4 separate regions of the Homo sapiens genome follow, and regions 2, 3 and 4 are each reported to be linked to region 1. Evidence: microRNA targets listed by miRTarBase, many of them from high-throughput screens and not tested one by one. Region 1 holds a microRNA gene; each other region holds the end of a gene's coding sequence.
What was found. Region 1 holds the annotated microRNA hsa-miR-4418 (CACUGCAGGACUCAGCAG, at 4,769-4,786, opposite strand). A microRNA usually pairs through its seed, bases 2 to 8, with sites in the 3' UTR of a target mRNA and lowers its output. Matches are read on the target gene's strand: a 7mer-m8 pairs with bases 2 to 8, a 7mer-A1 pairs with bases 2 to 7 and ends in A, and an 8mer does both.

Region 1 (7,123 bases):
AGCTCTCATCTTTGTCTCTCTGCACTGTCACTGGGCCTTTTCTCCGGCTTTGATTTGTCACCACCACTGCCCCCCATCCCCCAGTGTGCAGGCCAGACATCTGGGAGTCTTTGATGCCTTCTTTGATGCCTTCTCCTCAGCCCACATCCGAAGGGTCCCAGTGCCGTGGGGTCTGCCTCTGCACCCCTGTAAGCACCAGTAATTGCTGGACAAATGTGTTCTGGGTTCACAGTTATCAGCCTCAATTTGCACGGCCACGGAACAACTGGTGAAACCATGAGCCCTGATGTTACTTCAGGAACGTTTCATTTTATTAGCGTGATGAAAGCGTTTATGGAGCTCTGTGATATATAATTATGCTCTCATTTTACAGATTAGTAGCTTGAGGCTGAACTTACTTTTTTTTTTTTTTTTTTTGAGATGGAGTCTCACTCTGTCGCCCAGGCTGGAGTGCAGTGGCACAATCTCGGCTCACTACAACCTCTGCCTCCCAGGTTCAAGCAATTCTCCTGCCTCAGCCTCCTCAGTAGTTGGGATTATAGGCACTCACCACCATCCCCAGCTAATTTTTGTATTTTTAGTAGAGACGGGGTTTTGCCATGTTGGCCAGGTTGATCTTGAACTCCTGACCTCAGGTGATCCACACACCTCGGCCTCCCAAAGTGTTGGGATTACAGGCATGAGCCACCACGCCCGGTCAAGGCTGAACTTTCTTATCCCTTCATAGAAACCCTGCCGCTTCTCTCCACCAATTATAATGAAAATTAATGGCTACTTCTATACAAGTGAATTCATAAGCAATAATTTTGGGACCAATGACATGTGAGTTGTGAGAAATAAAACTGCATCTTTCCAGAGAGGATGTCCAGCCAGCATCCCGGATAGAGGACCCTTACCCTCATGGTGGTCTTCAGTGGGCTGGATGGTAGTTATGGTGGGAAGAGTGGAGTATGTCGCCTGCCTTCTGTGAAGCTCTGGAGGGAACATGGCTCCCCCATCACTGCACCCCAGCTCTGAGCACCACTAGAACCCAACAGGCCTTTGCTGAATGGATGCCAACGTTCCTGCATCCACCCCTAGTTAGGGAGGAGAGAGATTAGTGGGGAGCTATGGGGGAGTGTGTGGGCTGTGAGGAGAGGTGACAGAAGGGACTCCAGGCTAGAGGAGGCCCGCCCACTTGGAGCAGAGGCCCCTGGACAGGTAAGGGGAGAATGTTCGGGGAGGGAGCAGGAGACTGGGCTGGGGCAGGTGATTTACCTGAATGTACAGGTAAGTACTCAACAGATGCGTTCTGGGATTGCTGCTATCAGCCTCAATTTGCACAGCCACAGAACAATTTCTCTGCTAAACACCTTCTCCGTCTTGGGTCTGGGACCTGGGCACACATCCTGGTCCCACATGCAATATGATGTATTGCTCACCTCCCATACACCACGCACTATCTAAGTGCTGGGCATATTCAAGGAACCTCTCTGCCAGTGGGAGATGAGAAACAACAAACAGATGGCTCATGCCTGTAATCCCACAAACAGGCCAGACGCGGTGGCTCATACCTGTAATCCCAGCACTTTGGGAGGCTGAGGCGGTTGATCACAAGGTCAGGAGTTCAAGACCAGCCTGGCCAACATAGTGAAACCCGGTCTCTACTAAAAATACAAAAACTTAACCCGGCCTGGTGGCGGGCACCTGTAATCCCAGCTACTCGGGAGGCTGAGGCAGGAGAATCATTTGAACCCAGGAGGTGGAGGTTGCAGTGAGCCGAGATTGCGAGATTGTGATTGCGCCACTATACTCCAGCCCGGGCAACAGTGGGAGACTCCTTCAAAAAACAAACAAACAAAAGCATGATAATCATGGGAAGTGGGGCAGGAACAGGCAGAGGACAGAAAGAAGAGAAGAGAACGGTGAGCGCTAAAAGGAAACATTTTCAGAATCTTGGGTAGGGAAGCCCTTCCTCAGCGTGTTACAAAACCCAGAAGCCATGAAGAAAAAGACGGGCTAATTTCAATAAGTAAACCTTAAGCTCTGTGGAGGAAGAAGGCTTTGGGCAGGAGATGAGAGAGGGGCAAGGAGGGGTGAAAGCAATGACCAGGACCACAATGACCACAATCAGATGGTGGCCCCGGGCCCCTGAGGCCCCAGATGGTGGGGTGGATAGACAGGGCGCCCAGCACACAGCTCCACCCCATCACCCCCAAGGTCACTCCACTCCTGTCCCTGCCACTCTGGCCTCCTGCTGGCACTCCGTGCTGTTCCTATCCCCGTCTCTCCTTTCTCAGCCCCACAACCCGTCAGTGGACTCTGGGTTCAAGCTGTCTCTGGTCTGGCAACTCCCCTGCTCATCCCCTACTTCCTCCGCCTCCACTCCCACCCATGGACTTGACGGTGAGAGAGGAGGTAAAACCAGTCACTTGGGCCCTGAGGAAGGCACCTGTCCCTGCCTTGACACAAGCCTGCCGGGGGCTCCCTCACTCCGCTTTCCCAGGCACCCCCGCCCTGCCCTGGACATGCTAGAGTTCCTCCCAAAGACGTTCAGGCCCGAGGAGTCCTGAGGGCTGTCCCCACCCTGCCCCAGAGTGGCCACCTCCCTCGCAGTCCCGCCTGGGCGTCCTAGCTCAGGTGCCCTTTCGGGACCTGTCACAAGGCCATCCACAGCCTCAGCAACCTCTGCCCTCCTTTGCATCTGCACCTGCCCACTGCTGACCACCCCATAGGCCATGCCTAGACCCTGCCTGAAAGCTGGGCTTCTTGGCCCCTTAGGACCAGGGAAAAAAATTGAAATTGTTGGGACATCCAGGGCTTTCAAACGCCTGGAGTGGAGTCCAGGAATGTCAGGCAGGGAGGCAGGAAGAATAAACCCCGTGGGTCTAGGCAGAAGACAAGGCCAGTGAAACAGTCGCATTGTCCCTGGAAGAATGGAAGCAGAGCCAGGTGTGGGGAGGCAGGCCCAGCCCCGAGCGCCAGGGGTGTGCTCTGGACCCCGCCCCGCTGGACAGGAGCTGGGTTGCTCAGTGATATGCACAAGCAGCCAGGTACCAGCAAGGCCATGCCAGAGAGAAGGAAGCTTCCTGTATCCCAGGGACACCAGACCCTGCTGCCCTGGGCCAGCTGAGAACCCCCTGCGCCCCCCCTCCCCTGCAGCCCCCAGGTGCGGAGGAGGGATCTCTCCAAGGGAGCGAGACGATCAAAAGGAGGTGCCTGTAAATCACCACGGAGCCTCCCTCTCTGCTTTCCATGCACCGGGGAGCCTTCCCAGAGCTCAGATGTGGTTCAAGGACCCCTCGGAGATCCCAGCCTGACGTGGCTCCCTCCAGCCACGGTTCAGCCCCCTCGGCCAGGGAGGAGGGTGGGTAGGGGCAGGGGAGGCCTTCCACTAGACTCAGGTTTTTGCCACACAGGTCTGACTTCCCACTCCCACCCCAACAACGCACACACACACACACGCATGCACACACACGCATGCACACACACACATGCACACACACACGCACACACTCAGGCCCAGCGATGCACACGCCACACAGCTGGGGGCCAGCCACCCAACACCTTCCATTGGGCGGGAGGTCCAGCTTTGACCACCTGCAGCATCCCTGCCCAAACTAAGGCCATCTCAAAGGGTCAGTATGCCTAGGGCCATGTGCTCCTGGAAATTGTCCGGCCACACCTTCTCCCCAGAAGCCAACATTTGCTTTAGAAAAATTGGACTGATGCTTGAACCGGGAGGCGGAGCTTGCCATGAGCCAAGATGGCGCCACTGCACTCCAGCCTGGGTGACAGAGCAAGACTCCATCTCAAAAAAAAAAAAAAAAAGAAAAGAAAAATCGGATTGAAATGAACACCCAGGGCCCTGTTGCAGGGGGAATGGGGGATGCCATGAGGCTGCACCACGGCAGTCCTTACACCCCTGGGCAGAGGTTCCTGGACAGGTGAGTCAGTCTTCAGACCCCAACTCCTTCCGCCTACCTGGAGCTTCCTGTGCAGCGGCAGCTTGAAGCTGTGGGGAGCATGGTTAGAAGTCAGTTCCAATGACAGCTTCACCCTTTCCTTGTGGCCTTGGGCAAGTCACTTGGCCTCTTTGATGAGCTCCAGGTTCCCCGTTTATCAAGTTTATCAACCGTAGAGGGACCAGGCACATAGTAAATACCCCTCTCCTAAGCCCTGCCAGGGGCCACCATAGCTCATGGTCAATATGAATAATAAGGGGGCTGTGTGTCATCTCAGTCCCACACAGGCACCATCTCATTCAACCCTCACAAGCAGCCCGCCTGGGAGATACTCCTATTATCTCCACTTTACAGATGAGACGATGGGGCTCAGGGTGGTTAAGAACTTGTCCAAGGTCACAGGAAGATGCAAGCCAAGGTCTGTCTGATGCCAACACCCAGGTGCCCTGAATCAACTGCTGGCACTGCCCCTTAGTTCGGCTCGGCCCCACCTCAGCTGACCCCTGGGGCCTCTCCTAAGGCTCTAGAGGGGAGGGGCGTTGAAGCTTTGCACACACAAGAAGCCACACAGCCAAGCAAATGAGCGATGTGGCTCCCAGGGGAACTGGGCTCATGCCCCTGGACTGCTAATGGCCCCCAGGTTTACATCTTCCACTCCAGGCTTGGGTCATCAAATCCCTGACGTCCCACTCAACTTATCTGAGATGGGGCCTCCCCCGCCTCCCCTGCTCTGCCCTCTGTTCCCAAGCCACCACCACGTCTCAGTGGGTTCTGGCGACAGCCTCCTCACTGGTCCCCCACCTCCCACTTACTATCCAGAATTCCTGCTGAGTCCTGCAGTGACTCCCACAACCACCACGGTCACTCAGAGCAAAAACCAAAGCCCCCAGGAGGCCCCCCAGGCCCCTGGGTGACACAGAGGCTCTGCTGACTCCTCTCCTCCCACCCTCCCCCTCACCTGTCCACTCCAGCCACACTGGCCCCTTTGCCGTCCCTAGAACCCCCCAAGCATGCTCCCACCTAGGGACCTTTGACTAGCTGCGTCCTCAGCCTGGGCACCCTGCCTCCAGAGAATGACATCTCCAGCCTCTCATCCTTCAGGTCTCTGCTCAGGTATCTTCTCAGTGGCCCTCCCTGAGAGGCCATGTAACACAGCCCTCCTTTTCCCCTCACGCTGCTGAATTTCGTTCCCTAGCATGCGTCACTATGTGCCATATTACTAATGGCTTGTCTGTTTAATGTCTACCTCATCACAGAGGACACACGCTTCTATGAAAGTAGAAGCCTCTCCCGCCTTCTTATCTCCCGTTCATGCTTGGAGCCTAGAACAGTGCCTGGCACAAAGCAGACCCTCGAGAAACATTTTTTGAAGGAATGAATGAAGGAATGTTGGCATAGTGGTGGGGCTGAGGATTGGGAAGGAAGGGTGGAGAGAAGCAGGAAAGGGAAATGTATGGAAGCAGACATGAAAAAGCTGCGCAGAAGTGTGCATGTGTGTGCAGGGGTGGACACGACACACACACGCACACACACACAGGTGTCAGTACGGTAACCATGGATGAATCGCGAGGCCAACAGGCAGAGACACAAATGCACTATCTACTAACAAACACAGACGCACACCACACAGATACGCTCACACACAAATACACACACACATGCACATCCCCAGATATACACATACGTCCTCATACATGCATCCCCAAATATACACATACATGCACATACACCCTGGCGCGCACACACACACACACACACACACACACACACACACACACACACAGAGCTCCTTACCAGAACTCTGCTCTGGCCCCACATCCCCCTCACCCCAACTCTACACCCGGCTCCCAGGCAGGGAAGGAGCTTTTCCAGGTGACCTCACTGAGCGGGAGTTAAACTCCACCAGCTCTTTTTCAAAGCGGATTTGGCTCCAGTCTCCCTTGTAATCTGCTCCTGGATCAGTGCTCACAGGGGCGCTGGCCCTGGCCTAAGGTCAGGACCTCTCACCTTCTCCCAGGAAGTCCCACTGAGTCCTCCCCCACCCCCAGACCCCCAATCAGCTGCTTCCCCTGACCAGTATAACCTGCTGAGCTGAATTCTTGCTGGGTATTTTCAAACAATTCCAGTTATTTGGGGGGAGGGGTGGTACTGTGATCCCCAGGAGGGGTTTGGTATGGGGGTGGGGGCTAGGGAGCAGAGGGGATGCCCGTCAGGGTGGGACAGCCTCTAAGTTGCCTGTGCTGCAACAGCGACCTGGCCCCACCCCACTCTCTTTTTCAGCCTCTTCCAGCCCGACTCCAGCCTCTGTTTCCCGAAAACATGCCACCTTTCAAACCTCCAGGCCTTTCCACTTGCAGGGCCGTCTGCGCTTACTTCCCCAGTGAGTAAACTCCTCCACATCCTTCAAAGCCTCAGTCCGATGTCCTTGCCACTTCTAGGCTGGGGCTGCCACCGCCCTCTGCCCGTCCTGGTCTCTGTGTTATCCTGGCCTGGCTGAGTGTCTCCCTCCTGTCTAGATGGAGGTCTCTGAGAGCAGGAGGCACAGTGATGCCGCCAATACCTAGTGCAGATGCCAGTGCAGGGCCTGACCCCGAGCACAGGCCCAGGAAATGCTTATAGAATGTGAAAAAGGGGTTGGGGGAGGGTAATGCAGAGGTCTGGACGAGGCACCTGGATCCGTCTCTCCCTTGCTTCTGCCTTGAGCCAGACATGTACCCTCTCTGGCCTGCTGTTCCTAGGAGCCTGGGCTCACTGAGGCCTCAGAAGGGCTGACCCCAGAAGGAAGAGGTGGGGCCTAGAAGGAGCTGCCATGGCCAGGTGGGGGCTGGTTGTGGCCCTCAGGGTCGAGAGAGGGAGGGCTGCTGCTGTCTCACACGTCTTTACTGTCACCAGCACCACTGTCACCAGCACCATCCCTAAGACCACCGCCACTAACTTCAAGACCACCACCCTCCCCCGCAGCACCATCCTCCTGTATGGTGCCAGCACCACTGTGATCATCGGCACACTGCCCACACCACTCTTACATCCCTCTATCTGCACAAGCGCGTGTGTACACACACACATGCACACACACACTGTTCTCCAAAGCACAACTGTATCATTTTTGTCTCTGGACACCCCCACCCCACCACCACCACCCAGTGAAGAGCCTGGCACATTCTAGAAGCTCCATGTCG
Region 2 (7,123 bases), not on the chromosome of region 1:
AAGGTGAGGCATCACTGCAATATGATGTTAAAATAGTAATCTTGGCCTGGTGTGGTGGCTCACACCTGTAATCCCAGCACTTTGGGAGGCTGAGGTGGGAGGATTGGTGAAGCTAGGAGTTTGAGACCAGCCTGGGCAACAAAGTGAGACCCTGTCTCTACAAAAATAAAAAATTTAGCTGGGTGTGGTGGCACCTGCCTATAGTTCCAGCTACTCGGGTGGCTGAGGCGGGAGTATCACTTGAGCCCAGGAGGTCAAGGCTGCGTTGAGCTGTGATTACACCACTACACTCCAGCCTGGGCAGCCGAGTGAGACCCTGTCTCTGAAAAAATAAAACAACAACAACAAAACAAAAAACAAAAAAACCTATCTTGAACCATTCCCCTCTCACGACAAGGTCTTAATGGGGGCAGATAATATGACAGAGAGACATTCAGAGCAGGCAGAGGTGTCATCGATTTGATTCACGAGTCTGAAATCTTGTTTTTAATGTTTAAGCATTACTCTTTGACAATTGAGAGAAAACAATCCCCCTGGGAGGAGGAAAGTGGCCAAAAGAAAATGGAACAGCTGAGAAAGAATGGAAATGATTCTAATGCTCCACGACACAGAGCCAAGTGGGAGGGAAGCCAGGGTAAATGATCCGAGCCCGTCTATGAAACAGCCCGCCTCAGCTTGCGCGCTGGGTGCTTACTCAGTGAAGCAATAACAACTCTGTCATGGCTGACACAGCTGGAGCTCCTCCATGTTAGTCAGCTGCAGGAAACCAGCCTATGTCCATTGTGCAAGAAGAGTCTGAACACTAGAGACACAGGCACACAAGATTGCATCTCTACTCCGCTTCTCCTTGGTTGTTATGGGAAGTGAGTGTCTCAAGTTAAATAAACTAGACTCTGGGGAACTATACAGTAAAGACTTAGTGATCGGCACAGCTTGGCATTTATGGTGATTAAAGATACAAAACATATTACAACTTTAATTTGTCTTAGTAACTTTGAAGAAGATGTTGTTATTTTAGTTTAATTAGAGGGGGGAAAAGCAGAGGGATTACGTGTAACTTTTTAAAATAAAACTTTGAACCTAATATCACATAAAAGTCAAAAAGTACTTTGATGGAATTTATTTTACTTCTTTTGGGTGTCATGAATACAAAAGAGGTGACATGCTCAACACCACAGTGCTGCAGAGCCAGGTAAACAATCTAGAATAAACTTGCTTCATTGTTTTCTAGCAACCCCTAACCACCTCTGTGATCTGTGGAAGTGAGGAGTTGGTACTTTGCCCTTAATTTCTCCTCCCGTTCCTGGCCAGAAGAGCCCACTAATTCTTGTACCCTGTCATAGTGTAAGTGACTACTGATTCAAAAGATGTCGTTATATTCAGATTAATGGATAAAGAAGTACAGTCATGTATCGCATAATGACTTCTTGGTCAGCAATGGGCCACATATACAGCCGTAGTCTGGTAAAATTATAATGGAGTCAGAAAATACCTATTGCCTAATGATTTGTGTTACAATTGCCTACAGAATTCAGTACAGCAACATGTTGTACAGGTTTGTAGCCTAGGAGCCATAGGCTATACCATACAGCCTAGGTGTAGAGTAGGCTATACCATCTAGGTTTGTGTAAATACACTTTATGATGTTTGTCCAAAGATGAAATTGCCTAACGATGCATTTCTTAGAACACATCCCTGTTGCTAAGCAATGCACTACTGCACCAATACAGTAATGGAACTTTCTTAAAGGAAAATCTACTAGGAAACACTTGATCCTAGCAGTGATCCTAGGCTGCATTAAATTGGAGGCACAATATGGAATAAATTAATACCAGATCCCAGTAGAAGTCCTCAACTAATTCTAGGCATAGAGCATCTTTCTCACTCTTTTTGCTGGCTTTCTTTCCTGCTTTTTTTTTTTTTGAGATGGAGTCTTGCTCTGTCACCCAGGCTGGAGTGCAGTGGTGCAATCATGGCTTACTGCAGCCTCAACCTCCCAGGCTCAAGGGATCTTCCCACCTCAGCCTCCTGAATAGCTGAGACTACAGGTGGGTGTCACCATGCCCAGCTAAATTAAATTTTTTTTTTTGTAGAGACAGGGTCTTAACTATGTTGCCAGGGCTGGTCTTGAATGCCTGGCTTCAAGGGATCCTCCTGCCTTGGCCTCCCAAAGTGTTTGGATTATGGGTGTGAGCCCTGTTTTCTGAAATACATTTTCTTAAGTTGTCAGGGTGATAGTAGTCAGTTTTTAGATTGTTTCTCCACAAAGGCCCAGTTCACCCTTTGCTGGCTTTCTTTCCTGCCTGTTTTTTGTTTTAATTCTACCTAAATATCCTGGCCTAAGCTCTGAACTGTGAACTCCTGTTTTCAACCATAGGTAGAAATATAATGACCATAATTTTTTTTTTTTTTTTTGAGATGGAGTTTTGCTCTTGTGCCCAGGCTGGAGTGCAATGGCACGGTCTTAGCTCATCGCAACCTCTGCCTCCCGGGTTCAAGCGATTCTCCTGCCTCAGCCTCCCAAGTAGCTGGGATTACAGGCATGTGCCACCACACCTGGCTAATTTTGTATTTTTTTTTTAGTAGAGATGGGGTTTCTCCATGTTGGTCAGGCTGCTCTCGAACTCCCGACCTCAGGTGATCCACCCACCTTGGCCTCCCAAAGTGTTGGATTACAGGTGTGAGCCACCGCACCCAGACACAATTTTAACTTATAAAATAAATGGTATTTCATTCCCTCCAAAATAAAAACTAGAAATCAACTGCCAATCAATTTTCTCCATTTGGGAAGCTGCCGCCCTCTAGAGGTAATATGATGTTGGGGGCACTTTCCAGTTGTCACCAGGACTGACAGCAGAGGGAGTTGCTACTGCATTTAGTGTCTGGGATGAGAGATACCAGACATAATGAAATGCAGTTTTTTTGTTTTTTTTTGAGACGGAGTCTTGCTCTGTTGCCCAGGCTGGACTGCAGTGGCGCGATCTTGGCTCACTGCAGCTTCCGCCTACCAGGTTCCAGGGATTTTCCTGCCCCAGTCTCCGGAGTAGCTGGGACTACAGGCACGCGCCAGCGCAGTCAGCTAATTTTTGTATTTTTAGTAGAGACGGGGTTTCACCTTGTTGGCCAGGATGGTCTCAATCTCCTGATCTCATGATCCGCCCGCCTCGGTCTTCCAAAGTGCTGGGATTACAGGCGTGAGCCACCGCGCCCGGCTGAAATGCAGTTTTATATATAAAGAAAGAACCACCTTGCCCAAGATACCAGTAGTACTCACTTTGAAACACTATGAAAGGTCTACAACAAGTTGCATCATCTTAAAAAATTCTCCATTATATTTAATCTAAGAGGACTTAGAAGAGGACTGAGGAGTGGGGAGAAGACAGGAGAGTGTGAAATACATGGGGGCTCCCATATGTTGGGACAGAACATGGTCCTCTCAGGAATTTCATGGCTCTAACTGCGTTTCAGCCTAGCTTATCTTACCAGCATTTATTTCAACATTAGGATCTGGGACTTGACTTGCCAATTCTTCATGACACAGCTGTGGTACTACTTACTCAGCTAGGAATAACAAAAGGTGTAGACTTTTTCTTTTTTCCTTTTTTCAGACAGGGTCTCGCTCTGTTGCCCAGGCTGGAGTGCAGTAATGTGATCATAGCTCACTGCAGCCTCCATATCCCAGGCTCAAGTGATCCTCCTGACTCAGCCTCTCCAGTAGCTGAGATTACAGGCACACAGCGCCACACCTGGCTAATTTTTTTGGGTTTTAGTAGAGATGAGGTCTTGCTGTGTTGCCCAGGCTGGTCTTGAACTCCTAAACTCAAGCAATCCTCCTGCCTTGGCATCCCAAAATGTTGGGATTACAGGCATGAGCCACTGCTCCTGGCCAATAAAGACTTCTGATTGATGTAATGTTATTCAGTCATATAAAGATGAAATGTAAATAAAATGGTTAAAGTGTCCTCTCAGTTGCAGAATAGACCTCAGTTGCTAGAAATACATAGCTTTTTAAAAATCTTTATTTATTTAGTTTTTTTGGGATGAAGTTTTGCTCTTGTTGCCCAGGCTGGAGTGCAGTGGTGTGATCTCGGCTCACTGCAACTTCCTTCTCCTGGGTTCGTGCAATTCTCCTGCCTCAGCCTCCCGAGTAGCTGGGATTACAGGTGCCCACCACGCCTGGCTAATTTTTGTGTTTTTAGTAGAGATGGGGTTTCACCATGTTGTCCAGGCTAGTCTCTAACTCCTGACCTCAGGTGATCCACTTGCCTTGGCCTCCCAGAGTGCTGGGATTACAGGCGTTGAGCCACTGTGTCCAGCCGACAATTCATTTTTATTAAAAAAAATAATAGAGATGGGGTCTCACTATGTTGACCAGGCTGATCTTGAACTCCTGGCCTCAAGCGATTCTCCTGCCTTGGCTTCCCAAAGTGCTGGGATTACAGGTGTGAGCCACTACATCTGGCCTTGAATCCTTTTTTATCTAAGATTTTCAGGCATTGTCAAATTGTGTAAGGTAAATTTCTACTTGTTCTCTAGTATCCATTCTCCCCATTTTTCCTTAATAAAAACCCCAAATGGTTCCCATTTCCTCCTCCATTTCCCAGCTTCCTTATGGGTGGGTGTGGCCATGTGACTTGACCTGTGGACTATGTAAACTGATGTGTGCAACATCCAGCTTTTCTTCCCTTCTTTTAAATAGGGAAGTTGCTTGCTCTCCATACTTTCCCCCTTTTTACCCTTGCTGGAAAAGGATGACAACTTGGGCAGCCACCTTAGACCTACAGATGGCCATGGAATGTTCCACCAGCTGGATCCTTGGAGCAGAGCCACCTACTCACTTCTATCTTATTTAAGCCAATGAATTTTGGAGAAATTAATTTTCCTGCCATTTTTTCATATACTGACTGCTAACTCCAAATAAGAGAAATGACATCTGGTCTCAATATAAAAAACAGTAGTGAGGCGGGGCATGGTGGCTCACACTTGTAATCCCAGAACTTTAGGAGACCGAGGTGGGTGGACAACATGGTGAGAACTTGTCTCTACTAAAAATACAAAAATTAGCCAGGGGTGGTGGTGCATACCTGTTATCCTAGCTACTCAGGAAGCTGAGGCATGAGAATTGCTTGAATCCAGGAGGTGGAATTTGCAGTGAGCCGAGATTGCACCACTGTACTTCAGCCTGGGTGACAGAGCAAGACCCTGTCTCAAAAAAAAAAAAAAAAAAAAAAAAAGAAACAACAGTAGTGGGAGAAACTTGAATATAGCAGGCTTCCAATTTTATATATATGTGGGTCACAGATACATACCATATACATACTATACAAAAAAAAAAACTTTTTATAAGCTGAATACATTATGAACATAAGTCTTGAATAGTTTAAAAAAGTTAACTGTTAAGAGCTTTGAAAAGGGTGAGGCTGGCCGCGGCGGCTCACGCCTGTATTCCCAGCACTTTGGGAGGCTGAGGCGGATGGATCACCTGAGGTCAGGAGTTCGAGACCAGCCTGGCCAACATGGTGAAACCCCATCTCTACTAAAAATACAAAACTTAGCTGGGCATAGTGGCGCATGCCTGTAATCCCAGCTACTGGGGGGCTGAGGCAGGAGGATTGCTTGAACCTGGGAGGTAGAGGTTACAGTGAGCCAAGATCGTGCCACTGCACTCCAACCTGGGCAACAGAGCAGGGCTCAGTCTCAGAAAAAAAAAAAAAGAAAAAAGAAAAAAAGGGTAAGAATGGGAGCTTTATTTATGCGTTATATGTTTAATACAAATTCAATGTATTTTGTTGTGTTCAATACAGTTAATATCTGGAGTGAACAAGGTCGGTCTCATACATTTATCTTTCCTTTCTTCTTCCTCACGTTGTACATAAGGGAAGGAGGCTTCTTGGTTTTATAGGCCACACTTTTCTTGATGCGCTGTCCTTTGATGTTAACAATATATGGCAAGAGAGGGGGCCGGACGGTCAAAACTGTTCCTTCAGGTGTATAGCCTCGGAGATGCAGTCTGTCCTTAAAATTAGGTGTTACTGAAACCCAACCTATGCAGGCATGTGACACAACACAAAAGGCTGTTAGCAATCATCTTATTAAAAATACCAAACCAAAGCTGAAAATGGACTATCAGAGAACGCTGTCACTCTCTTTCACTCTCTTATTATTTTATTATTTTTTAAGAAACTGCGTCTTGCTATGTTACCCAGGCTGAACTCAAGTTCCTGGGCTCAAGCGATCGTACTGCCTCGGCGTCCCGAGAAGCTGGGGGCACAGGTGGACACACCTTAGTTTTAAAAAAGCATACAATGCGTTTGTGCAAAGTACAAATTTATTTTCAGAATAGGTTGTATTTTATGAATAAACTAGTATGTACACCTTAAAATAATCAGCTTTCATCAGTTAAGGCACTTTTCTATAAAAAAAATTGTCGGTAAGGCTGCTTTATTCACTTTTTGTTTTTTTTTTTTGAGATGGAGTTTGGCTCTTGTTGCCCAGGCTGGAGTGCAATGGCATGATCTAGGCTCACCGCAACCTCCGCCTCCTGGGTTCAAGCGATTCTCCTGCCTCAGCCTCCCGAGTAGCTGGAATTACAGGCATGCGCCACCATGCCCGGCTAATTTTGTACTTTTAGTAGAGACGGGGTTTCTCCATGTTGGTCAGGTTGGTCTCAAACTCCCGACCTCAGGTGATCCGCCCACCTCGGCCTCACAAAGTGCTGGGATTACAGGTGTGAGCCACCGTGCCTGCCCTTTTATTCACTTTTTAAAAAGTGCTTGGCATAAAATTACCTGCAGAGGAAAACTTGATGTCGGCCACTGCTTCAGATGCCCCCAGTCCTTCTTTTAACATAATGTCTTCAGCAACAAGAGGAGGAAATCCTGCCATTCGTTCTTTTCCACCCATTGGAATCTTCCAATGAAATAAAGATATTTACAAGTTCAAATTAAATTTCTTGGAACTCTAACATTAAGCAAATCACTGATAAGATAATTCTGTACAGGGATCAAGAATAAAATCCTTTCAAATATTCAACTGTTGAAAAGAACTTGCAATCACTTCTGGGGTCAAATGAAAAGCAAGGGAACTCTGTGATGGGATGAAGCTTACAAATCTCAGGGCTCTG
Region 3 (7,123 bases), not on the chromosome of region 1:
CTGGGTTCAAGTGATTCTCCTGCCTCAGCCTCCCGAGTAGCTGGGATTACAGTAGGCATCTGCTACCTCGCCCGGCTTTTTCTTTTTTTTGAGATGGAGTCTCGCTGGGTCACCAGGCTGGAGTGCAGTGGTGCGATCTCAGCTCACTGCAACCTCTACCTCCTGGGTTCAAATGATTCTCCTGCCTCAGCCTCCCAAGTAGCTGGGACTACAGACATGCGCCACCACACCCAGCAAATTTTTATATTTTTAGTAGAGACAGGGTTTCACCATGTTTGCCAGGATGGTCTCGATCTCTTGACCGCATGATCCGCCTGCCTTGGCCTCCCAAAGTGTTGGGATTACAGGCGTGAGCCACCATGCCCAGCCCTTTTTTTTTTTTTTTGTATGTTTAGTAGAGATGGGGTTTCACCATGTTGGCTAGGCTGGTCTTGAACTCCTGGCCTCAAGTGATCCACCCACCTTGGCCTCCAAAGTACTGGGATTACAGACGGGAGCCACTGTGCCTGGCCCAATTATTTTAAATAGCTGTGAATTCAAGCAAATATATCTGAAGATTTACTGACAAACAAGGAGCTTTGTTCTTGAATCTATGGCAGCTTCAGAGAAATTAAGACTGCTTTAAAAATGAGTATTTTCTAATGTATTGTAGCAACAAAAGTTACATTCAACTATATATAGAATAAAATGTTTTAAAATCATACTGTAGTTTGTTAAGGCATACAATAATAGAAAGTCATCTTGGGATCTCACGAGTAACGTTCAACTCTTTAGAAACCAGGTTAACTCTGCATAGTTCTGGTCTAGACCTGTGCCATCTAACTTGGCCACTATGCACGTGTGGCTACTGAGCATTTGAAATGTGGCTGGTCCAAACTGAGATGCATCATCAATGTAACATACACACTGGATTTCAAAGACTTGGTATGAGAAAATATAAAGTATCTTAATATTACAGTAGAAATATTTTGGCATATTGGACTGAATATTAAAAATAATTTCAACTGTTTTTAATGTGGCTCACAAAATTTAAAATCATGTGGCTAATTACACTTTATTGAACGGCCTTGTTCATCCAGTTCATTAAAGTGTACAAGAGAGCTGAAACATTGGCTGTGTGATGTGATCCCATTCATAAGAATCTCATCCTCCCGGCCAGGCGCAGTGGCTCATGCCTGTAACCCCAGCACTTTGGGAGGCTGAGGCGGGTGAATCACCTGAGGTCAGGAGTTTGAGACCAGCCTGGCCAACATGGCAAAACCCCGTCTTTACTAAAAATACAAAAATTAGATGGGTGTTGTGGCACATACTTTGAATCCCAGCTACTCGGGAGGCTGAAGCAGGAGAATCACTTGAACCCAGGAGACAGAGGTTGCCGTGAGCCGAGATCACGTCACTGCACTCCAGCCTGGGGGACAGAGCAGGGGAAAAAAACAAAACAAAACAAAAAACACAACTCTTTTCTAGGGAGTGACTCAGGCCGCCACTACCCAAGCAGACGAAGAGAGCTGGCTTTTATATATGCTTCTGCATGGAAAGGCCACATAGCCTATGCTTACAGGCCCTTGGCCAGAACCATGCCCCTCCATGACTTATGTAAGTAGGGTGACTTGGGATAGTGCATGGGTACTTAGCAGTAAATGCCTCTGTCATAAGACATGGTGTTAAGTTTTGGGTTTCTTGAAACATTCAAAGTTAAACACAAGTACTCTTCTACGTATGTTGGAAAAAGGAGGGAATAAAATCAGGATGTGGTCACTTCTGTCAGAGGAGTACTGGAGCCAGTCAAGAGGGTAAAATCTTAATTAACAAAGCCTATGTAGATTGTTTATATTTCCTTCCTTTTTTAGTCAAAGGAAAACTATTATACAAACATATATGGAAAATGACAAGCAGAGGCTCCTCCTTCCATATTATGTTGACAGTAAGTTGTATATAAACTGTAGCTAATGTGGACAAATCTAAATAGTTGTCTATTGCAGTCTTGTAGAAAGAACTCTAGTTGAATTCTAGTTACCTACGTTATCTTTTTTTTTTTTTTACCGCCTTCCCAAGATGGAGTCTTGCTGTCACCCAGGCTGGAGTGCAGTGGCACGATCTTGGCTCACCGCAACCTACGCCTCCCTGGTTCAAGTGATTCTCCCGCCTCAGCCTCCCAAGTAGCTGGGATTACAGACATGTGCCACCATGCCTGGCTAATTTTTGTATTTTTAGTGAGACAGGGTTTCACCAGGTTGGCCAGGCTGGTCTTGAACTCCTGACCTCATGATCCGCCCAACTCAGCCTCCCAAAGTGCCAGGACTACAGGTGTGAGCCACCACACCCAGCCTTTTATTTTTTATTTTTCCTGAAGAGACAGGGTCTTCTTGCTATTGCCCAGGCTGGAGTGCAGTGGCACAAATATAGCTCACTGTAACCTCAAATTCCTGGGCTCAAGTGATCCTCCAACCTCAGACTTCTAAGTAGCTAGGACTATAGGTGTGCGCCACCAGGCCCAGCTAATTTTTAAAACATTTTTGTAGAGATGGGGGTCTCACTATGTTGCCAGGCTCTACTTATGTATCTCTACTGTTCAATATGCATATACCATGTTTGGCTATACTCTTTCTGCTATGTTCTTGGCCTTTATAAAAATATAAATATGGCCGGGCGCGGTGGCTCACGCCTATAATCCCAGCACTTTGGGAGGCTGAGGTGGGTGGATCACGAGGTCAGGAGTTCAAGACCAGCCTGGCCAAAATGGTGAAACCCTGTCTCTACTAAAAATACAAAAATTAGCCAGGCACAGTGGCGGGATCCCAGCTACTTGGGAGACTGAGGCAGGAGAATCGCTTGAACCAGGGCTGCAGAGGTTACAGTGAGCTGAGATTGAGCACCCCAGCATGGGTGACAGAGTGAGATTCTGTCTCAAAAAAAAAAAAAAAAAAAAATATATATATATATATATATATAAAATATATAAATATGTACCATATGTTACAACGCTAGTTACTTTTGCATTTCTAAGTTGTTTACACAAATGCAGAAATACAGAATCTGGCAGCCAGTAATTCAACCCAGCTCTATCTTCCTGCTGCTATCTATCTCTCCATCCCCATGCATATACAACCCTTCCCCATCCCTAACACAGTGACATGAAACACAACAGATGTTTTAAGTGTACATCATACATTTATTACCAACAACCCTCTCAACTCCAAAATTGGGCACAGGGATTAAAAATAAAAATTCATTGCACTACTTAGTAAAGCATTACTAGTAACTTTCATAAAAAATGTACAAACTTTGTTAAAAATTTATCAAGCCTTCAAATGATTTGGTTACAGATATTTATAATACATACATTTAAAACTATATGTTAACTGATACAATGGAATATGATTTGAGAAAATGACTCAGCAAATGATTCCAAAAAACACCCCTGTGAGCTTTCACAATCTGAAACGGCAAAATGAGGTAACCAAATGTACCAACAGGGGGACAAACAAACAGCTTTCTAATGAAAAGGCCCAAAGATAATCTGTGAAAAATATTCTCACAAGTGAGTCGGTAGATCTCATTCAAAATTATTCTAAGAGGCCCAAATTTAAGAATCTTAACAAATCACATTTCAGATAGTATATAAAATCTAAATATGCTTTCACATTTTCCAGATTTTGCTCAAAAAATTAAGGACAGAAAATCCTAATATGAGATCTTGATACCTGGAGGCCTTATTTTTTTGAGGGGCTGGGGGTTAAAAAAACACCAAAGATGACAATTCATGCCAAAAAACAAACAAGAACCCACAAAAAACCCACAGCTGAGTTAAGATGGTAAAGCCAATATTATTTTAGGAGGAAAGAGGACGAAGGCCAATGAACCAACATCTGCCTGCTATCTGGTGCATCACCCAAGGTGACCAATGGCTGGGCACAAATAAACTTCTCTTTTGCTAGCCACAGAGTTGCTCACTGTGGCAAGCCTGAGCTGGTCAGAACACCTGTGTGTGTGTTCCTGATACACACTAACCACAATAAGCAAGTCTGCACACATCTCTATGAGCCCCATGCAAAGACAAGACATTCCCAAAGATCAGTCACTAGAGTGCAACAACGAAATTCAAGATTTGACCAAAACAGACCCTGCTGCCTCCTAAATTGCCAATTGCCTCTCAAAAACTTACAGAAAAAGGGACATTATAAGAATTCATAGAGGGAGAGAAGAAAAAGCTGCTACTCCTAGTCATTAGTACAATGTGCTGTGTTAATTAGATACCTCTATATAAATTAGAAAAAGTGCTTTACTTGCATGCTTCAATAAAATGAATACTGAGTGTCGTAGTGTTAGATCTGTACAGATATAAATTTTTTGCAGCTATATAAAAGTGTATAAGATGGGCTTTTGCCATTTTAAACATGATTTTTTTTCATTAAAAAAGATTAAACTATATGTGATTTGTATGTAGCTGATTATTATGCCAAGAATTTTGGTCTTTAACACACTTTTTATTCATCAGGAACAGGTGAGGGATATCCTAATGATTTAAAAGTAACATGTGCATTAACCATGTGCATTTTTACCACTATTTAGAAGTATTTCTGATGCACTGACAACCCTAGGGGCAAACACAGTATGCAAAACCCTACTTGTAGGACTAGATAGAGGCAACAATGTCTCGCAAAGGGCAAAATTGTGCTTCTGTGAATTGACTTTACTTAACTCTAGGCTGTGATGAGCTTATAGACACTTCAAGGGAGGGCAAGCAGCATGGCAGTAACAAGTAGTTAACACTGAATGGAAAACTGACACAGAGCCAACTGAAAGTTGAGTGGGGCTGGCAGCAAGTTATCACAGTCCTGACTGGAATAATGCAGCTTGTGCTATTGCAAACAAAGCAATTACATCAACTGCAGGAAGAGGCAGACAATGTTGAATACACTAAAAGAATGAGAAAGTAATTTAAACATTGCTGGAAAAATGACTTTAAAGTGAATTATGCTCAAAGAACTTACTAAAAAAAACCCCATACAGCTATGTATTACATCAACTAAATGAAGGTCAACTCCTGTTTAACAGCATTATTTTTTTATACAAAAACCAAATCTTCATTTATACTGCAAGTATTCTGGACACCTGTTGTATTAAACTTTTCTCATTCAAACAAAAATTAAAAGGAAAGGCAGTAAAATATCAAAACAAATCAGGTCTAAGGAACATGAGCTGTAACAGCACTTGATCCATCCTGAAACCAGGGTTTCGATGAGAAGCACGTGTGATGAAGGAAGAACTAGACAACTTTCAGAATTGGAGTCTGGCAAGTGAATTAATATGAACAGAAATAGAGTTTTCTTAAAACAATTGAGTTGCCCACAGGAGCTTGAACACAGAACACATATGAGAAGTCAAGCTGAATTAACAGGTTTTGTTCTGGTGGAAGTCAACAAGGTGAGACTTCATGGGACTAGTGGTCTTCTTAGAAATATATTAATCAAATATCTTCAGAATAGACTAGACTACAAATCTAAACATTAAAAAAAATCACAGGTACTTTCTGTAAGAAACTTACTGGAAATGTAAAGGAAAAAAAAGTATCAACATTCAAATCACTGATTGAAATGCTAATATTGCTAACTGATGATATATGATATTGCACCTTCTTTTTGGAAACAGCAAGTTGGAGATTTAAAAATTTCCACAACAGAATAAAAAAAAACCAGGTTCATGGAGCGAGAATTTGTTACACTTTTTTTTCTTAAGTGACCCACTTAGGACCACCAATAAAGAGAAGGTGACAGCTGCCTGAAGCAAAGGAAGAAGGCTTTTCTCATTCCATTCACTGGGAGGGAAGGGGATGGAGTATTCAATGCTTGTAATTGATGCACCCTCAGCAATCAGTGTGCAACAGCAAACACAAGGGAAAAAAACCAGTGTACAGTACTAGTGCTGTTTAAATAACACACCAGATTATACATTGCAGCATAATTAAAACTACACACACATTCTTGGTACATGCTGGTATATAGGATCTCATACACACGTTAGCTACCATGCCCTCACACAAGTAGTTGCACACACTCACACAGATACACTTATCACCAACAGTCATACGCTGCGCATTCATTTCCACTCACAGTTTCTGAAGGCTCTATATAAGGTAGATTGCTATATCATCTGTAGCTACCACTTTTTATAAAAGCACATGCTAAAAGATCACGTCCACTGTAATCTTGCAGCAACACTCGGAATGATCACACAAAAACCAGGGAATGTTAGTGCACACACAAAATTAAGCTAAAGAAAAAGTCTTTGGAGTTCCAATCACACGGTTAGTATAACAATCCCATAACTGTGAAGACTAATTGTAAGCTTTTATAGTTGATTAAGTCACACAGTGCAAAGAAAGGTCCATTGACCCTTTTGGTAAAGGGAGGGCTGGAAGCCACACAGATTAAGTTCAATGGATAGTCCGTATATACATGTGATGAGGAACACCCAAACTAAATTTGTGCTTCTTAGGTTGGTCATTCTGAATCCCGATGCACTTCTGAAGCATCAGCTCGGCAAATTGGGCAAGTACGATTTGCCTACAAAACAAAAAGGAAAACTTGTTTAAATTGTGACACATACAATGAAACACATTCAAAGCAATGGAACTACTTTTACTTCCCACAGTTTTTACATTCTTTCTTCCTCTGAAGAGGTACAAAGCAATTTTTGCCTTTTTTTAACCCATAAACCTCCGAATTAGCCCAGGAATTTTTTTTTTGAGATGGAGTTTCGCTCTTGTTGCCCAGGCTGGAGTGCAATGGCACGATCTCAACTCACTGCAACCACTGCCTCCTGGGTTCAAGCGATTCTCCCGTCTCAGCCTCCCGAGCAGCTGAGATTACAGGTGCCCACCACCATGCCTGGCTAATTTTTGTATTTTAGTAGAGACGGGGTTTCACCATGTTGGTCAGGCTGGTCTCAAACTCCTGACCTCGGGTGATCCACCCACCATGGCCTCCCAAGGTGCTGGGATTACAGGCGTGAGCCACTGCGCCTGGCCGCCATGAATGATTTTTAGTAGGTCTGTTAAAATATATAAACAAGATTACCATTGACCAGTTTGGACCAAGTTAACAACTGACATTAAAGTAAA
Region 4 (7,123 bases), not on the chromosome of region 1:
AGAGCCTTTAAACAAGATTTCTCTGTAGCAAACCCAACAGTTCTTCACCCCTAACAATTTATCATCAGGAAAACAATTTCGCATTGCTTACCAGTCAGTATGCAGGAAACCATTTTTGTTTCATGCTCCAGCTTTTCTTCTTTAAGAGAGAAATTTGAAACATCTTAATAAAGGGTATGTGCACGGGAGGCTAGATAGTGCTGAGGGTGTGGTTTTTAGATATTTTGTCATTTGGATTTTTTGGTCAGGATCCTTAATGTTTTGCATCAGCTTGGGCTTTTAAATTAGATGTGAAGTAAGACTTCTTTCTACATTTTTATAGTTAATTTAGTGAAAGATGTGAAAGTGAAAGCTTGTGAAAGATGCTGGGATTGGCAGCCCCGCAGACTGAAGTCCTCTGTTCATCCACAGAACAGGTACAGCACGGGCAAGATTTACCCACCCACCCTCAGCCCTGATCTGGAGGGACCACCACTAGGGGTGGGAGGGTAATTCAGCTTCTGAGGCCCTTTCACTCCTTGGAGTCTTTGCTGAGGCGACTTACAAAGGTGACCACTGCCGTGAAATTTTTCTTAAAAAAAAAAAAAAAAAAAAAAATGGAAACACAATTAGGAACTAGATGGACATTTCCAGCTCATTTCTGAAAGACCTGTGAACAGCAGTCAGTAATTCTTGGACTTCTTTTTCTTATTTCAGATCCAAAAAATTAATCCAAGAATCAGATCAGCACCTGAAAGATGTAGAAAAAATTTTACAGAATGACAAACGGTATCTAGTACTGGACTGTGTGCCAGAGGAGAGGCGTAAACTGATTGTGGCATATGTTGATGACCTGGATCGCCGGGGTCCACCCCCACCTCCCACAGCATCGGAGCCCACGAGACGATCAACAAAATAATTCTAAATACTCTTCCATAGGGGCATCTATTCAAAATGCTTGCATGAGCCAATTTTCAGGTTTTTACATATATGTGCATTAGTCAACCTATTGCGAAACCATCTGACAAACAGAAGGAGAAGCATTTGTGAACAGTTTCTGAACAGAACACTTTGGAAATATTTATGCTTTTCTTTGTGTGGCATGACTGACATACATACTCAAATATAGGCTGTCTCTAGTAAATCTTAAAATCTTGAAGCTAAAATTCATCCTTTTATGAGGTGTGGAAGTCAGTGACTTGGTGACGTTCTTCCTAGCAGTGTTAATACATGCAAGAAGTAAGAGCATTTGTGGCTTGAACTTGCCAGATGCAAATACCACAGACTCCAAGAAAACCCGAGTTGGGGTTTGTTTTGTTTTGATTTTTTTTTTTTAAAGCGGGTAAAAGAGAAAACACTGAAAATTGAATTCTTATCTTCCAGAGGCTACAATTATTATAATGGACAATACTTTTACCTTTGTCTCTAAAGATCAGATTAGTTTTATTTGTTCACTTACGTGCTTTGATTATCCCCTCTGAATTATAGACCGAGTCTTGTTGTTTAGCCTAAGAGAAGATTTATGTAGTAATTTCTTCTCAGGTATGGAACCACGGTCATAACTAACATGTTGGCCAGAATAGAACCACTGGTTAAACATATTTTATTCACCATTAAGTGATCTTTATCAATATTCTGGATTAGACAACAAATTACCTTTCTGGGTGTTTCTTGTAAACTATACTCCTGTTTGAATGTTAAACTTTGTTGCTAAAGTTTAATTTTAAGATGTTTGAATGTTCAGTTTATGTATTTGAACTACAATAAACCAACCCTTTTTATATATCTGTATTGTATATGATTATTGTTACTTAATTTTTAAGAGCTTATTTTAACCTGTTTTTAAAAGCAGCAAATAGAATTTCCCACAAAGTAAGTTGACTCTAAATCTTAAGTATTACCTAGTTTTTAAAGGTTTGAATATAATAATGCAGTATTTGCAGTATAAAAAGGAAGGAATTTGTAGAGAATCATTTTGGTGCTCAAGTCTCTTAGCAGTGCCTTATTGCCTCATAGCAAGAAGATGCTGGGGTTTTTTTTGTTTTTGTCCTTTGTATTAATGTATGATGGTTTGCGCCTTTTTGGCATTCTTTCAACATGTCGTGTACATCACACCATGAATCAGTTCCTAATTGATATATCTAGCTTTACCTCCCGAGTTAAAAAAAAATCTTTTTATTTTATGCCTTCATAGGTTGCTCGTTTCAGAGTGCCACATAAATAAAATGTTTAACAAAATATATATGTTAATAGAATAATTTATTTTCCATTATCTCATACCGACTATGATTGTAACAAATCCTAGAAAGAAGGAATACCAACAGATCTGTATTTGTATGTTGTGTGCATACAGTCACAGACACACACATTCACATCCATGTTATATAGTTCATAGCTTAAATCTATTAAGTGCCATGGAAATTTTGTGAACTCTTTATGTAGGAACCTGGCATTGATCAGACTAAGGTCTTCAGCTGTAAAGTTGATAAACAGGATATGTTTTTTCTTTTTATGCGTACAAAGGATCTTACTCTGTCTCCTAGGCTGGGGTGCAGTGGTGCCATCATAGCTCACTGTAACTTTGAACTCCTGGTTTCAGTGATCCTTCTGAGTAGCTGAGACTGCAGGCATGCATTACCATGTCTGGCTTTTTTTTTTTTCTTTTTAAAATTTTTTTGGAAATGGTTTCACTCTGTTGCCCAGGCTGGCCTCAAACTCCTAGCCTCAAGCCATTCTCCCACCTCGGCCACCCAAAGTGCTAGGATTACAGGCGTCAACCGCCACACCTGGCCGCCTTCTGTTTCCTTTTTTTTCTTTCTTTGAAGTTCATTTTATAAGTTCATTGAGTGATTTTTAAGTACTGTGAGGAATGAAATTGAAGTGCTTGCCAAAAGGAGCACAACTATTATGTAGTATGTAGAAATACGACTGTCTCACAAGGGTAAAGTTTCCAGAATGCCTTATTTTGTTATTCTGAATTCCACATAATATTGTTTGCCCACTTACTACGTTGTTTCTCACAGTAGAGAAGTGAGAAGAAAACAGTTTGGTGATATCTGTTCTAATTTCCTACTTTTGTCTTAAAGTATCTGGGTTTGATCAGATAAGATACAAATCAAACTTCTCTAAGCAGATTTTTTAAGGGATCAAGTCGGGACTTAACTTTGTGTATCAGGTTCTTAATGAAAGGTTCATTGTAATTACTCTTTGTTCCAGTGTCTGCATCTTGATTTGGTGCTTGTTAGCAAACTCTGAAAATCAGTTCACCTTGAGACCTGTTCCAGTGTTAAGGTCAAACAGCCCCATAAAGCTCCATTGTTCCTAATAATGATTTTGGAATGATAATTCAAGACAAAGACAGCTTTAAATCTCCAAAAACTATCGGAAGTAAAGCGTAATTATTTTTATTTCTTTACAAGTTTAAAGTGTCAAACCCTGGAAGCTTACATCCTAAATTTACTACATATAATGAACATAAAAATTATTTATTCAAATAATCACAGACAATGATAATCCTTTTTATAACTACCATATCACAAGACAATATTTTGGATTCTTGGGTTAAATTTTACTTTATTTGAATACATGAGCTTCAAATAAAATTTGTAATGAAGGATGTAAAAAGAATACAGCCCTACCTCCTGTGTTAAAAAGCAAACTATGACCACTTATGAAAAAGCAAAGAATCCGGAAACCCATAGACAAAAAGCAAAATCTTTTTTTTTCCATAACATATCCTTTATATTTCAGATTCTCCATGGCTTGGTTTGCCCTAAAGGCATTTCTATTCTGAGGGAAACTTTCAGTGAAAATACCCGAGTTCCATAACAAAGTAATCAAGAATCATGGGTGAATGTCATTATACTTAAAAGGGGCAGAAATATATCATAATCATGTTTTATTGGGTATGTTTTACCTTGCTATAAAATGAATGGTTATTGCCTGTTACTCAGATTTTACCGTATGTCTGGGTACACAGTTTTACTGCTTTCTGCATTGCCCTTATGCTTTTTATTTTGTATTCTTAACCAAATTCTGTCTTGGTTTGTTGAATTTTCTCTTTTTGATATTAATCTCTTTCTCAGGTTGCTAGATTATTTTTATAACTTAGCCTATAGTATTTTAAAAGTTGAGTAGGGTTCAAGTTCAATGTTCTGAGTAAGGGTAAGTTTAGTACCATTAACAAGAAAGATCACCATCTCCATCTTCTATTTGTATTTGAGGAGTAATCTATACCTATATCATTAACCATGGTTTATCTTGGGAGAAAGGAGATATTAGGAGGAACACATTTCTGCTTATAGAAAAATAACTTTCCCACATTTTGGAAGTGAAGAGAGGACATTTTTTTAAGTATTTTTTCCCCCATATCAGACTACTGAATGTCATTGGAAAGCTGCTACAATTCTTAGACTTAGAAACTGAAGACTCATTCAGGTAGCTTTAAAAAGTTCACTGAAGCAGGCTTTAGTTTAAGTTTGAATTTATTTAAACTTGGCCAGAACCAGCCATGGCTTGAAATGAGTCCAGAATTGGAATAAGGTGCTGTTTCTTTTTCTTTGACCTTCAGTCATGAACATTATGATACGGACTTTTCATCAAGTAAATTAACACTTATTAAGTAAATGAAGAACGCATTAAAATTTATCATTAATGTGTTAAAAATCTCAAGTGAAAGTAGATTTTGAGCTTTGGTTATGTGAAATACAATTTAGTAGGTAAAATTAGGACTAGCAGGTCCTGGGTGAAACTGAAGGTAAAGGGGCTCAGCTTTGACAGAACCTCTACTGCAGGCTCCAGCCGGTCCACTACAGGGCTGGTCCTAGGGGGTACCCAGTAAAACCACTGTGAACAAATGACAGAATAGCCAGGCTGTCTAATCACTTTGACAGCAACATCTTTACACAACACTTAAATTGTTTGGGAAGCCAAGTTCTAATTCTGAAACAATTATTACTTCTAACATGGTTCTCTACTTACCACATTGCACATTTGGAAAGTGTAGATTGTGAAATATTTTTATAATTCCTAATGGTAATAATTATATCAGTTTGTAAAGTCAGCAATATTGATAAGCAGCAGTACAAGTAAATACAATAATCACAGTTTGTTTTGCTTTGAAACTTAAATCTATTTAACACCTTCCCCTGTCTCTTGATCTTCATGTTCCCAGGGGATAGGGTCATTGTCCTGTACAGAAGGGACTGTGTCCCTCTCATGCCAAAACTGCTCTACGTCAGGAAGGATGGGAATCTCTGCCTTCTCAGTTTTCCCTTTGCCAGAGGAGGGAGAGCTGGGTTTCTCTTTTTCTGGTATGGATGCTGGGGATTCTGGAGATGGAACCTTGTCAGGAAGACCCTCTGAGTTGCCAGCTGGTGTTTCCTGAGACTCTGAGACAGTTGGAGGTTTTTTGGTTATCATCCATTTCCATACACCTTTCAAGCCTTCCCTGAACTCTTCCGACATCACAAGAAAAATGAGAGGATTTGCTGAAGAGATGGAAAACATCAAGACTTGAGACAGGGCTATGAAACCTTGTGGTGGGGCCGGGCCTGCAGCCTTCAGATGCCATACCCACAGCCAAGCTACCCATTCGGGGAGCCACAAGAGAGCAGAGATGATGGCAATGCTCAGCAGCATCACTGTGACTTGCTTTGAGCGTATCTGGTTTCTAAGATTTTGAGTCTTAGTTCCTCGTTTTTTACATTGGTCATAAGCTCTCCAGAAATAAAAGCTGGCAAAAAATAATGGAAGGCCAAATGCCAGGAGTGGGTAGAGCTTACCAAACATCGACATAAACTCTTCAGCCACAGCTGGTACATCCACGAGGCACATTTCCACACCTTCATGATGCCTGATGGTGCTAAAGAACCATTCCGGCAGGGGTAACAGGCTAGCCACAGTCCAGATGGCCACCAGCACTGACCAGATGGTGTAGTTGTGGATACTCACTTGCTTGGCTGGGTCACTTGCATACATGAAGCATACTTTGGCCACCACAACGATTGTCAGGCTCTTGGCTGCCATGCATGTGTGGATAAACCAGTCAGAGGACTTGCAGACAAACCAGCCTAGATCCCAAACACTTTTGGAGTACGCCGTAGCTCGGATAGGTGCAGAAAACAGCAGGAGGGAGAGATCAGCCAGGCTGAGATTCAGAATCAGGGAGTGGATCATGGATGGCTTTCCTTTCCAAGCATTGTGAAGGAGGATGCCAATCACACACAGGTTTCCCACGAAGCCCACCAGGCAGACAGCCACCAAGAGAGCCGGGATGATGGTTCTCCAGTCCTGGGAATCAGAGGGCAGGTACCCTCCGGCAAAGTGGAGGTGAGCAAAGGACACATTCATGCTGCTGGAGTTAGAGTCTGCAAAGGCAGCTGCCAGCATCACTCTTCACAGCTTCTTACAGAAGTTAGATTCTTATTTAGGTTTGTCTTTCTGCCTGGGCTCTTTTGCATAGGAAATAAGTACTCTGTCGTCAGTGTCAAATGACACTTCTGGATCCTCCCCTTGCTTATTTCCTGAGAGCAGAATGTGGAAGGAGGCTGGCTGTTAAGCTCTTCTCTGCTGCATACAATATACTTGTGACTGTACCGACTGTCAGATAGCAGGAGCACATGGCTGCTGCTCATTAGCAAGTCTAATACCAAATCGTCAGCCCTGTGGAGTAATACAAATATACCCATAAATGATGAATGAAGAGAACATACATGTAAGTGGCATGTGTTCCTTGGGGGGTCACTAGAGCCAGTCAAGGCAATTATTTTCAACCAGCTCTTCCTAAAATCTTGACTGCTGTCTGTAATTTAGTGAACACTACATCTGAACCAAGTTCTTTGAACTTCACCTGATGGCCGGATCCAGTGGGTCTGGAGTAGGGCCCAAGAAATCATTTCTAACAAGTTCCCATGAGACTCTGATGCTGCAGGTTGGGAGACCACACTTTGAGAACCACTGTTTTAAACTGAGAACTAAAGCTTCCCCTACCCACTCTGCAGAGATGAGCTTCCTCTTCTTTTCCCCAACCCTTACAACCACCTCAGTTCCATCAACAGCTGGCTGAGTTCAAACACAGCTGGATAATGAAAACAAGTTAGAAGTCCTATTAAAAAAATCTAATTATGGATGACTCTCAGTTTAT

Region 2: the mRNA of NOA1 is a reported target of hsa-miR-4418. The part of its 3' UTR that is shown has no 7-base or 8-base seed match.
Region 3: miRTarBase lists RNF38 as a target of hsa-miR-4418. Seed matches in the 3' UTR shown: 7mer-A1 at 5,095-5,101 and 7mer-m8 at 4,889-4,895.
Region 4: miRTarBase lists TCERG1 as a target of hsa-miR-4418. Seed matches in the 3' UTR shown: 7mer-A1 at 1,909-1,915 and 7mer-A1 at 1,918-1,924.

Annotation. Positions count from the first base shown.
Region 1 is chr1:22,263,940-22,271,062 of GRCh38, reverse strand. MIR4418 (microRNA 4418) reads right to left here and starts at 4,824; the gene lies at 4,763-4,824. RefSeq lists enhancers at 4,082-4,601, 5,258-6,140, 6,141-7,024.
Region 2 is chr4:56,957,618-56,964,740 of GRCh38, forward strand. It overlaps NOA1 (nitric oxide associated 1), which reads right to left. Exons shown (of 7, transcript NM_032313.4): 6 at 6,789-6,909; 7 at 5,733-6,044. The coding sequence ends at 5,833. Among named protein-coding and RNA genes, the nearest start is that of NOA1, 16 kb to the right of the region's middle.
Region 3 is chr9:36,333,249-36,340,371 of GRCh38, forward strand. RNF38 (ring finger protein 38) reads right to left here. Exons shown (of 12, transcript NM_022781.5): 12 at 3,152-6,566. The coding sequence ends at 6,504. Among named protein-coding and RNA genes, the nearest start is that of RNF38, 63 kb to the right of the region's middle.
Region 4 is chr5:146,509,745-146,516,867 of GRCh38, forward strand. It overlaps TCERG1 (transcription elongation regulator 1), which reads left to right. Exons shown (of 23, transcript NM_001382548.1): 23 at 697-2,217. The coding sequence ends at 898. GPR151 (G protein-coupled receptor 151) reads right to left here and starts at 6,446. Exons shown (of 1, transcript NM_194251.3): 1 at 3,400-6,446. The coding sequence starts at 6,369. The coding sequence ends at 5,110. RefSeq lists a silencer at 888-1,088.